Homo sapiens: one gene and its partners. The protein of the gene in region 2 interacts with the protein of the main gene of each other region in a pairwise test. Each region holds a gene or a part of one and is shown on either strand. Other genes may lie near its edges. The genes, in order: AP1B1, FARS2 and MAN1C1.

Region 1 (3,500 bases), on a different chromosome or scaffold from region 2:
CTGAAGGAGATTTCTCAGGACGGCATCATAGGCTCCAGGGTGAGCACGCCTCAAGGGGATAGGTCGGGGGCGACCACCTATCCTAGGACACTGTAGCCACCAGTGGACCCATTTAAGGAGAATCTGGCTTAGTGGTCGAGGAACATCTCCACAGACAGAGAAAGGACGGGGATAAAATGCCAGGACACAGGAGTCTAGAGTGGCCCTGGGACGCTGGGACACAGAGGCACGTGGGCAGCTGAATGATGACAATATTTGCCAAGAAGTGTTCAACAGGCAGGGCCCTTACCCCAGAGCTCTGTGAAGTGAATGCTAAGTCCATTAACTTGTGGCTGCCCCAGCATCTTAACAAATGCTGCAGGAGAACCATGATTATGATGGGTTAATTTGATCGGCAGCAACTCGAAGGCCTAAAGGATACTATAGAGTGAGAAGGAACCCCACCAGATCTGCACAATGCTTGCCATGGGGGCTCCAGTGATGAGCCTCAGGCCTTCCCAGACCACAAGCAAGCTGGCAGATTCTGCTTGAATCAGACTGGTTTCCCGGTTTCAGCCCCCTTTTCCTTCTCCAGCCAAGGACAGAGTCCCAGAGCCTCACCTCCACCTTGATGGCGCAGCGGCCAATAGCACGCACAGCCTTCCGTACAAAGTCCACATCCACTTCTGTTGCGTACTCTTTCAGCTCTGCCAACACCTGTGGCCCAAACAGAAAAGATGGGGCTGGGGCACCTGATGGGGCAATCTGCTGGAACACTCCTGGGCAGTGAATATACACAGACTCCCTAGGAGAATGGGATTCTGCCTCCTGCTCCAGGTAGAAGGCCCAAGGGAGAGAGCTGGCAGGTGCCTGAAAAGGAAAGAAGGCCTGGACAACCTTGTTTGGGGTTGATTTAGCTAACATATCCAACACCACGTTGTAAGGGATGACAGGTGATAACATGGAGAAACATTCTTTAGTAATAAAAACATCAGTTCTTTTACTTGCTTACGAAGCCCCATGTCCCATGCTAAACACTCTTCATGAGATAAACCGTTAATGGTGAGACTGGTCACCTGGGCCAGAGCCTACAGTCTGGTGGTGGTGGAATGGTCCCACACTGAGCCCGTGTCCTGACCATCACACGCAGCTGACCTGGGCGATGTTGGCCTGAGAGGCCAGGCGGATCATGATGTCCAGCTTCTCCAGCTTCACGTAGATAGGGTCGTTGTACTTCACGAAGAACACCTTCATCTCATGCTTCAGGATCTCAGGCCTGGTGGTGGGGCAGGATGCCCGGAGAGCAAAAAACAAGGCTTAAGCCCTGTGAGAAAATGCCCTCCACATTTGCTGGGACATTTCTGGGGTCTGAGGTGGAGCCTGATGTCTGTGAAGGCAGAGTCACTGCCATGGCTGCAAGCTCCTGGGTAGAGGGCCCAGCAACCGGCCTGAGCAAGGCTGTGACTGCTCCTGTGTGCCTGAGCACGTCGCCGGAAGGGAGACGGAGGGCAGTGAGAGACGGCTCACTCACTCTCCAGAGGCAGCAGGCCCCATGGGACGGGCTTGGGAATCAGACATATCTCAGTCCCAGTCCCAGCCTGTGACCTCAGGCCTGTTTCCTCACCCATGAAATGGGAATGACGCTGTACAGAAACATGTTACTACTGCAGGTCTGGGACTGCTAGCCTCAGAAGGCCTGGCACGTGGCAACTTGGATTTTGAAGTGTTCTCACTGTTCCCTAAATGATAAAGGTATTTAACTGTACCTAGACCATTTGTACAAAGAATACAGTTTATGCTGAACACATGCTTCCCTACTGGGAATATGGAATTTGTGTAGGTGCCCCCAATAACAAACTTGGGTGCCGAAGTCTCAAATAGGCTTTCCTGGGCAGAAACATTACATACATGTTGCTGCATTTTGTTGGGGGAGGAGTGTGCTCTGTATGACTCCCCATGGGAAGGAGGAGGTACAAGGAAGCCTCTCATGGAACCCTCCAGACTCCACCTGTGTCCTTCTCCCCTATGACCCAGCCGGGCAGCCCTGCTCTGCTGCTGATAGATCTTTGCTGTGGGTATAGCTATATGCTGAGTCCTGGCTGGGCACAGCAGCTCATGCCTGTCATCCCAACACTTTGGGAGGCTGGGGCAGGAGGATTGCTTGAGTCCAGGAGTTCAAGACGAGCCTCGGCAACAGAGTGAGACCCTGTCTCAAAAAATATATATATTTAAAAAATATATGCTGAGTCCTGTGAGTACTGCTAGTGAAACCTGAGCATGAGGGTGGTCTTGGGACCCCAACATGGACACCGACCTAATCGGCCTGCTGTGAGAGTGAGACGAGAAGCATCCAGCATGATCGATGCCTGCCTCAGAGAAGGCACCGCTAGGCAGGAGCTGTCACTAGCTGAGCCCTTTCACATGTGTCATTGTTCCTCCCTCAAAGGCAACATCCTTCTGCCTTCCGCGAGTATCACCCACCACATTTTTCCTGAACAAGGAAACTTCAGAGAGGGTGAGAGGCTGGTACTAGGTCACATGGCTAATGTCAGTAAAGACGAGAGTGGGGCGAGAATCCTCTGCCTCTGACTCCTACTCCTATGCCCTTCCAGAACAGAGAGGAGGAAGGAAAAGATACGAGGACAGATGGTGAGGAAGGGAGAAGACAGGACAGAGAGAAAGGAGAAAACTGGGTACTCTGTGCTGCTGTGCACACTGCGGGGAGGTCCTGGCCAAGCAAGGAGCCTTTGTCGTGCCCCATGGGAGAGGCAAGACCCCGAGCTGGGTAGCAGGAAGATATTTCTGCGATTAGGACTTGGCAAAAGCTGCCCAGCCACATCTCAGGACCAGGGCAGGGCATGTCTCAGTGACGTGGACAAATTCTTAAGAGATTTACTATGTTAAATATAGCACAGGGAATCCTGCACGCTGATCTGCTCTACTAGTCACTACGCCGCATTAAATCCGTGACCCAAGGGCACTGGCGTATAAAGACCCACACTGCAACCAGGAAGCCCTAGTTTCATCCCTTGGTTTAGGAACTCAGAAGGCTTTCCCATATTTACCTCCCTAATAACCCAATTCGACCAATATCTCTGGGTCCCCCGGGAGAGTACTAAGACCCAGACTGAAGCTACAACCAGGAGGATGTGCTGTCTTCCAAGAGAAAATGACTAATGAGGCCCCAGTTCTCTGTGTAGCCCCACTCCCAGCCACAGGGCCTGCTGTAACATACGAATGATCAATGGTTGCTACTGTCAAGTCCCCACGAATGATCAATGGTTGCTACTGTCAAGTCCCCACTGCTGACTGAGCCATTTGACCAAAAGCTGTGAGGAGAACTCAAGGTCAATCCCCCTCCCCAGAGCTGCAGGGCTCTGCCACTCAGAGCCACTTCAGAGGAAGAAGGGGATCATGCCATGAACCCCTCCGATCCAGCACTGCTCAATGGTTTTTCTGCTCTCGCCTACCCCCCACTACCATACCACGTGCCCTGGGAGCAGCAGCTCACTGCTCAGCCA
Region 2 (3,794 bases):
ACATCAAAGCCCCATATTCTTCCCTAAAGGTCGCCTTCTGGAAGTGGAGGCTGCCTGCTGGGAAAACTTGAAGGGAGTTTGAGGACCTGGCCCCTCTGTGTGCCTCCAAGACTCTGGGGCAGCTCTCGCCCCTTTCCTTCCTCTCCAGTGGGGCAGAAGGCAGCTAAGCCCAAGTCCTGGGGCCAGAGGCCTGACTCCAAGCCATGGGTTTATGAAAAGCAAATAGATATCCTGCCCTGGCTGAAAGACGCACCTCCCTTCACATTGGACGAGAGCCCTGGCATTTCATTAGTGCCCTCTTTGAAGCCTGCCCTTTGCAAAACTGAAAAAGAAGAGAAGGGAGGAAGGAATGGAAGCTGATTCAAAAAGCTTCCTGTATTGTATCTGGAATTTCTGATGTCCCTCTGTGTGGCTTCACTCATTACCTGAGTGGAAGAGCCTGTCAGGCAAGAAATCATGCCTGGTGCTTAATGGAACCCAGGGACCAATTAACCATACTAAGCACCAATGCCAGTGGGCAAAGCACTTCTAAAAGGAATAGGAAAAGACCTTCCTCCTTTCCCCAAATAAAAGACAAATGCTATGTCAACAGCTTTTCAAGAGCGATCTTTTATTTTCTGAAAGTCCTAAAACTGATCCATTTATCAAAAGATGATTGATGCCCCAGTTCACAAACCATATCTTTTTCTCTTTCAGCAAATCCTGGAGCCCCAAGAGGGCTGCAGCCTGAGTGAAGTGGTGACATCAGAACCTGCCCTCCACACCCAACAGCTGGACTGCAGCCTCCTGCAAGGCCTGGTGGATGTGCCTGACCTCTCTCTGGGACAGAGTCCGTTCCATGTGGCGGTACGTGATGCGGTAGCAGTGGCTGGTCTTGTGCGTCCTACAGAGAGGAAGAGAACACAGGTGAGTGCGGGATGAACAAGGCTGTGCCTGAAGGAGCAGTGTGGCTTGCCCTGGCCAGATCTCCCCAACTGCAGTGGAGAACTGAGGTTGGAATCCAGGTACCATTTACCGCTAACAATCTGCATCTTATACAGGGGGAGAAGGTGACAGTCAGGGAAACATTCGCTTGACTAAAGGAGGCTGCTGGTTTCCACTGGGGTGGATGTATCAAAGTCCCCTGGGAAGGAAGCTGACAAATTTGATTTCCCAGGCCACGCTCTGGAGATTTGGATTCAGCAGGTGGGAGGTGGGACCTGGGCTTCTAAGCCTGTCCCCGGTTCCCGACGTGATTCTAACAAGCAGACAGGGTCAGGGGTCAACCCGCGTGTGCCTCCTTCATGTCATGGAAGGTAACCGTGTTTGTGAGGCAAACTGAAGTATCAGCAAGGCTCCAGGCAAGGCTGAGGGACTCACTCCCTCGGCACCCCTGTTGGCTGTCCAGGAAGCATACAGGCCATATATGCCGTGTATGTGCTGTGTAGAGAATTACTTTAGTCTCTCCTTTATGACATTGGTGTTGACTTGGCTTGCATAGAACAGCTGAGTAATTCTGGAATACGTGGAGATGACAGCAGTAGGGCCTTCTATTTGCATGGCAGGTGCTAAGACACACTGGTCAGTTGATCTCATGAGAAAGACCCCTGGGCCATGAACTGGCAGGCCTGGCCCTGTCCCCAACATGTCTCTCACTGGCTGTGTGGCTGGGTGTCTGACATCTCACCATCTCTGAATGCTCACATTTCTCTTCTTCTATACAATAAGGGGATCTGGTCACACAAATTCCTCTTTTCCAACCCCCAGCAGCAGCAGCAGCAGCAGCAGCAGCAACAACAACAGAGGCAACCCAATCCCTTCTTGGCCTTGGGGGAGGAAACTGAAACAAATTGAGGGCTCCCAGGCAGATTCCTTTTATGATGCCGTCAACCAGCCCTTAGCCTAGCCAGGGAGAGGCCACGTGCTTTCTGGCAGGTGAGACAGGGCTGGGCCTTCAGTAATACCAGGGCCTTGAACAAATGGGCTTCTGATTGAGCTGGACCTAGGCCACTCCCACATATTCACTGGAAACTGGTAGTCCCATTGATGCCACCTGAGTCCAGAGCCTTTGCTTCCAGGGTCCTCCCGACACTTCATGGATTGGTCTCACTGGATTCTCTCCTCTTTCCTCTCCCTCTCCCTCATCTGAATGCCAGAGCCCTTGGCTGGGCAGAATATGCCTGGTGCATGAGAGTCTGCCTTGGTCCTGGCCTCCCTAGTCTGCCCCTTCACCTCCCCTTCCAGTGTCTCCTCCCCTCTCTCCCACCCTGGCTTGGTCATCTTTGTCCTGCTTTTGTCCTTCCACTTTCAGGGAAGATAAGCTGCTATGCTGTGCCTCACAGGGTTATGTGCATTTTGGCCACATATGCAGCCCCCGTTTGGATCAAGCCACAGGAGGAAGTTACCACTGAAGGGCTGTGATAAACAAGCTGGGCTGGGGGTGGAAGTTTTCTGTAGGGACCTCCTGGGGATTCCCGATAGCACATGGAGGCCTGCCCCATTCCCTCACCCAATGTCAGCTGCCTGCTTTAGACCAAGGGAGAAATCAAATCCTCTCCCCACCTGGCTCTTTCTTTTTCAGTCCAGCTCAGGCCAATGGCTCTGCTCTGTGGACATTCCTCTGGGGTGGGGACCCTGACTCCTGGGGGAGGCACTGCTGCCCAAACTGCCCCAAGGACCTCCCACAAAGTAGAGTGGTCTTTTCTCCTCACTTTGTGCTCCGAACAACAGTACTCCAGGTACCATGCCCACCCAAGCCTTTCAGGCACCAAAACGCAGCGAGACAGAAAAACCTGGCTTTGAGAGGAAAACAGAGGCTCTCCAGGAGTGGGAGCTTATGAAACTACATAGCCAAGACCCCTGCTGCCACCAAGTGCTGACCCATTCCATTCAAACTACAATTGCTCCATTTACAGTTATTTGGTTTTTGACAAGAGCACCAAGACTATCCAAGGGGGAAATGTCTTTTCAACAATTGATACTGAGACAACTGGATATCCACATGCAAAAGAATGAAGCTGAATCCCTACCTCACACCACACACACACAAACTAACTCAAAATATATCATATATCTCAATATAAGAGCTGAAACTATTATCACTCTTAGAAGAAAACAGATGAGTAAATATTCATGACCGCATAGGCAAAACCTCCTTAGATGACACCAAAAGCACAGGTGAAAAAATTAAAAAAAATGATAAACTTGGAATTCATCAAAATTAGGCATTTTTTTTAATTCAAGGCATACAATCAAGAAAGTCAAAAAGGAACACACAGAATGGGAGAAGATATTTGCAAGTCATATACCTGATAAGGGATTTGTATCTAGAATATACAAAGAACTCTTACAACTCAACGATAAAATAGCCAACAACATAGTAAAACAAATGTACCAAAGATCTGAATAGACATTTCTGCAAAGATAAACAAATGGCCAACAAGCACATGAAAAAATGTTCAACTTCAGCCATCAGGGAAATGCAAATCAAAACCACCATGAGATACCACTTCAGGCCCATTAGGATGCTCATTTTAAAAACAAAAGGAAAATAACAAGTATTGGAGAAGATATGGAGAAATCAGGGCCTGTTTAGAAATTGACAGGACTCTGCAAATTATAAAGTGCTAATTGGGTGTGAGGTGAAAGTATCATTGTGGCAATTATTATCACATTGTGTTTTTTCACTGTTTCACTCTGGTCCCTCCTAGCAGAAGAGCTGGTAATATGGCACCTCTAAAAGTTATTGCCAATTGAAGATGGATGGGGAAAAATCTGTTTTCCTATTTCTATGTGCTCAGAAAAAGGCCTCTATA
Region 3 (3,723 bases), on a different chromosome or scaffold from region 2:
GGCAGAGGCCTGGAAGGGCCCCAGAGGACCCCAGCCATGGGCCAGGCCCCACCAGCCCATGGAGTCTGGCCTCGAGACTGTGTGAGCAGCTTCCTCCCTCCCCTTGGTCCCCAGGGCTCCTGGGGTGAGAGCAGTCTGACCCCCTCACGCCCCCGACATCCCAGAGTCTTTACAACAGCATCACCTCCCTTCCCACCAAAAGGCATGGCCATCAGGTAGTGGAAGAAGCAGAGCTCTGGACATTGTGGGGTCTTGTTTCTAGGCTGGTGTGGCTGGGTGGCCTGGGACAAGCTGCCACACCTCCCATTTGTCTGTGTAGGGCGCGGCAGCCCAGGTGCCTGGCTTGCTGTAGGCATTAAATGAGGAAACGTGTGACAAGATACTCCTAGAGAACAGCTCTTAATTTTCTGCAGGTTCTTTTTGAGAAACTGGTAAGAATAGATGGACACTCTTCCCATAAAGATGCACATCCACCAGAAAGTGTTGGGTACAGTTTTAAGGGCCTGGACCCCTGAAGCCCATCCACAGGCCAGCTGGGCTTCTGGTTAAGATCAAACAGAGGACATAATGGAGGAGGAGGATCACCTTAAAATATTTTTTAACGTTTTTTAAAACATGGAAGATTTTAAAGGCTGTGTAAGAGACTTGCCCTGGGGAGCTGCCCTGTGTCTGAGCCTCCCAGCGAATAGCAGCCCCTCCTGTGCCCTGGCAGGCATCTTGACCAGCAGAGATCAATGGGCCTCCTTTGCCTGGGATGGAGGGCTTGGCAGAGCTGCCCTTGCTACTGTCTCCAAAATGTTCATTTTCCATCCTTTCCCCCCCTTCTCTGTGCCCTCCCACGCCCCTTCTCCCTGCCCAATCCCCACCTTGCTCCCAGGCGATAGAGACCTACTTGCTGAATGTCTCTCCCGGGGGGCTGACCTACATTGCCGAGTGGCGAGGGGGGATTCTGGACCACAAGATGGGGCACCTGGCCTGTTTCTCCGGGGGCATGATCGCCCTTGGCGCCGAGGATGCCAAGGAAGAAAAGAGGGCCCACTACCGAGAGCTCGCAGCCCAGATCACCAAGACGTGTCACGAGTCATACGCCCGCTCAGGTAACCCTGCAAGGGGAAGGGGCAGCAGGAGAGACTGAGGCTAGACACCAGGAAGAACTGGAAAGACCGGCAGCAGTGAGCGAAGGGAGCACATGGCCTTAGGGAAGCCTCCCCTTGGAAGTTAAGTAGAATTTGAGAGAGGTACTCTCCAGGCTCCGAGACCATACCCTGAATGAAAGGGAAACTAGTACAGACACAGGAAGCGCTTTGCATGTACCTGGTACTCTTCCGCACTTGACACAACATCACTGAACCTCACCACACAGATGAGGAAACTGAGGCTCAGAGATTACTTGGCCAAGGTCCCTTGAGAGGGGCACAGAGTAAAGGATCCTCCAGCCCCGGAGGCAGAAACGGCGGCTTCCTGAGCCCGGCACATGTCCCACCCTGAGTCTCCTACTTTCAAATGTGCCTCTGCCTTTCCCCCGGCACCCTCCTTAGAGGGGGTTTCACCGCCTCCTGCTCCCACCTGTTTAGTCGCCCTCTTTGACCCATGATCACCGGAAAGCCTGAGAGCTTGGTCCTCCCCACCCACCACTCACCACTGAATTGTCCGATGCTAGAATCAGAGGTCACATTTGAGAGCCTGAGCCTGGCTCCTCATTCTACACAGAGAAGTGGAGTCAGCCCAGAGAGGGGAAGTGACTTAGCCAAAGTCACACTGCACATGAGGAATTGATCCTGGGCTGGAACCCAGGCCTTCTGATGCCTGGTTCCACCCCGTGCGCAAACTGCACCCCTCAGAAAAATCCCCAGCCCCCGTGTGGTCCCAGGAGACGCCCACCGCTCTGAGTGGTAATCCCAGTGTTGGTTGGAGGGGACGACCCAAGATTTGCAGTAAAAATCCCAGGCTCAAGCAGCGCTTGACAAAATGACTGTTTTCTGATGGCCAGGAGCCGCTACACCATTTGAAAAGATTAGAGAGGCCAGATGGGCAGCCTCTGTTTTCTTATCTGTTCGATGGGAATCATGACACAGGTCTCAGAGTGAGGCACAGGGTCCCATGAGAAAGTACCTTGGCAGCCACCTTTGGCCAGCAGCACTGCAGGCACTTGCTGACCGCCCATCATGATGTGTCTGTGCCCGCCCCAGCTGAATGGGGTCTCCTGGAGCTGTTTCCAGGAAGTCAGAGATTCGCAATGGGTCTTTAAAACTGGTTGTCCATTCTCTTCAAAGAGCTTGCTCTGCCAGGGCCATAAACAAATAAGAAATCTCAGGACTAATAAAAGGCTCGCTATTTGTCTGAGACAATCAGCCCAGACCATAAAAGACAGCCGCTTAATAAAGCATATTGTTCTAGCCAGCCTCGGCTTGTCCTGTGGACGCCTGTAGCAGTGGCTCCTGCCTTCACCCCACTAGCGACTTGGCAAAATGACTGTTTTCTGATGGCCAGGAGCCGCTACACCATTTGAAAAGGTTAGAGAGGCTAGGGTCTAGCTAATTCCTCTTCCCTGAAGCCCTCCATGGAAGAGCAGGAAGTCCTGCAAACCTCTAACCCCTGCCTCTAAAGTAAAAGCAACCTAGGGCCTCTCAGGGTTTTGAACCCTGGTAGTAGGGAAGAGGGCTCACATTAGGAATGGAGCTGGGGACTTGGGTGACCTGGACAGGAGGGACAGGCATTAAAGGGAGAAGGATCTGGCCCTCATACCCTACATGTTGGGCCTATGAGGGTTAGACCCAGGAGGGAAAGAGCACCGCCCTAGGAGAGGCATCAGACACATCCAGGGTCAAGTCCCAACTCAGCCACAACTCGCTGTGTTACCTTGGGCAAATTACTTAGCCTCTCTGATCCTCAGTTTCCACATGCGTGAGAGGGATAGTAGCAATTACCTTACTAAAGAAACATTTTTTAAGGATAGAAATAGTGTATTAAAGCACCCAGCACGGCCTTTGAAATCATAAATAGTGGCTACAGAGGTGGTTATAATTATGGCCATATGACAAGAATGACAGCAAATTGCCTCAAAACCAAACAGTGACAATGACAGAACCCAGGCTCCCTCAGGCCCTCCTTCCTCAGCTCCCTCTGTGGGAGTAGGTGCATTCCTGGGCAATCTTCCCTCCATCTCTACCTCAGCTGTTCCCAAACTCTCGAAGTTTGTTCTGGGAGGTGTTAAAAGCAGTTTTCTAAGACAAAGGGTCCCAAGGAGAAGCCTCATTTCACATTAGCATATTAAAGGATCTGATAAATCCTGCAGATGGGAGACTTATTTTGTTTAACCCTCGGTTCCCCAGATGTGTTGAAACCCGAAACCCTCTTGGCTGAGGTCTGGCTAACCTCTTGCAGAGCTATTGCCTCAAAGTACACAGTTGTGGAACCCCGCCCAAACCTTCACCTACCCAGACTGCTGAGTAGCTCATTTGGACTCTCAGAGTCCAAAGCTGCTCACATTTCCAGTCCCCGAGGGTCTTGTTCTGTCCAGCCCAGGCCAAGAGGGAAGCTGTGCATCTGCCCGGTGCAGCCTTACACAGCAGTCCAGGCAGGGGCACCCCACACCCACACACACCTGACATCACCCTGGCCGCGGGTTCAAGGCAACTGACATCTCTCCTGGATCCCGAAAAGCAGGAGGTGGGAGGTCTGACCTGGGCCCTCTGCTTGGCTGTTTCCCCAGACACCAAACTT

The links.
Region 1: the proteins of FARS2 (region 2) and AP1B1 interact in binary tests that used the Homo sapiens proteins (3 or more experiments, as listed by UniProt).
Region 3: the proteins of FARS2 (region 2) and MAN1C1 interact in binary tests that used the Homo sapiens proteins (3 or more experiments, as listed by UniProt).

What each region holds. Positions count from the first base shown.
Region 1 is NC_000022.11:29,350,571-29,354,070, forward strand, and holds part of AP1B1 (AP-1 complex subunit beta-1), read right to left. Parts: intron 1,256-3,500; coding exon 1,135-1,255; intron 697-1,134; coding exon 601-696; intron 1-600. UniProt on the Homo sapiens protein: Subunit of clathrin-associated adaptor protein complex 1 that plays a role in protein sorting in the late-Golgi/trans-Golgi network (TGN) and/or endosomes.
Region 2 is NC_000006.12:5,768,380-5,772,173, reverse strand, and holds the end of FARS2 (phenylalanine--tRNA ligase, mitochondrial), read right to left. Parts: intron 884-3,794; coding exon 745-883; 3' UTR 591-744; downstream 1-590. UniProt on the Homo sapiens protein: Is responsible for the charging of tRNA(Phe) with phenylalanine in mitochondrial translation.
Region 3 is NC_000001.11:25,777,228-25,780,950, forward strand, and holds part of MAN1C1 (mannosyl-oligosaccharide 1,2-alpha-mannosidase IC), read left to right. Parts: intron 1-877; coding exon 878-1,097; intron 1,098-3,712; coding exon 3,713-3,723. UniProt on the Homo sapiens protein: Involved in the maturation of Asn-linked oligosaccharides. Trim alpha-1,2-linked mannose residues from Man(9)GlcNAc(2) to produce first Man(8)GlcNAc(2) then Man(6)GlcNAc and a small amount of Man(5)GlcNAc.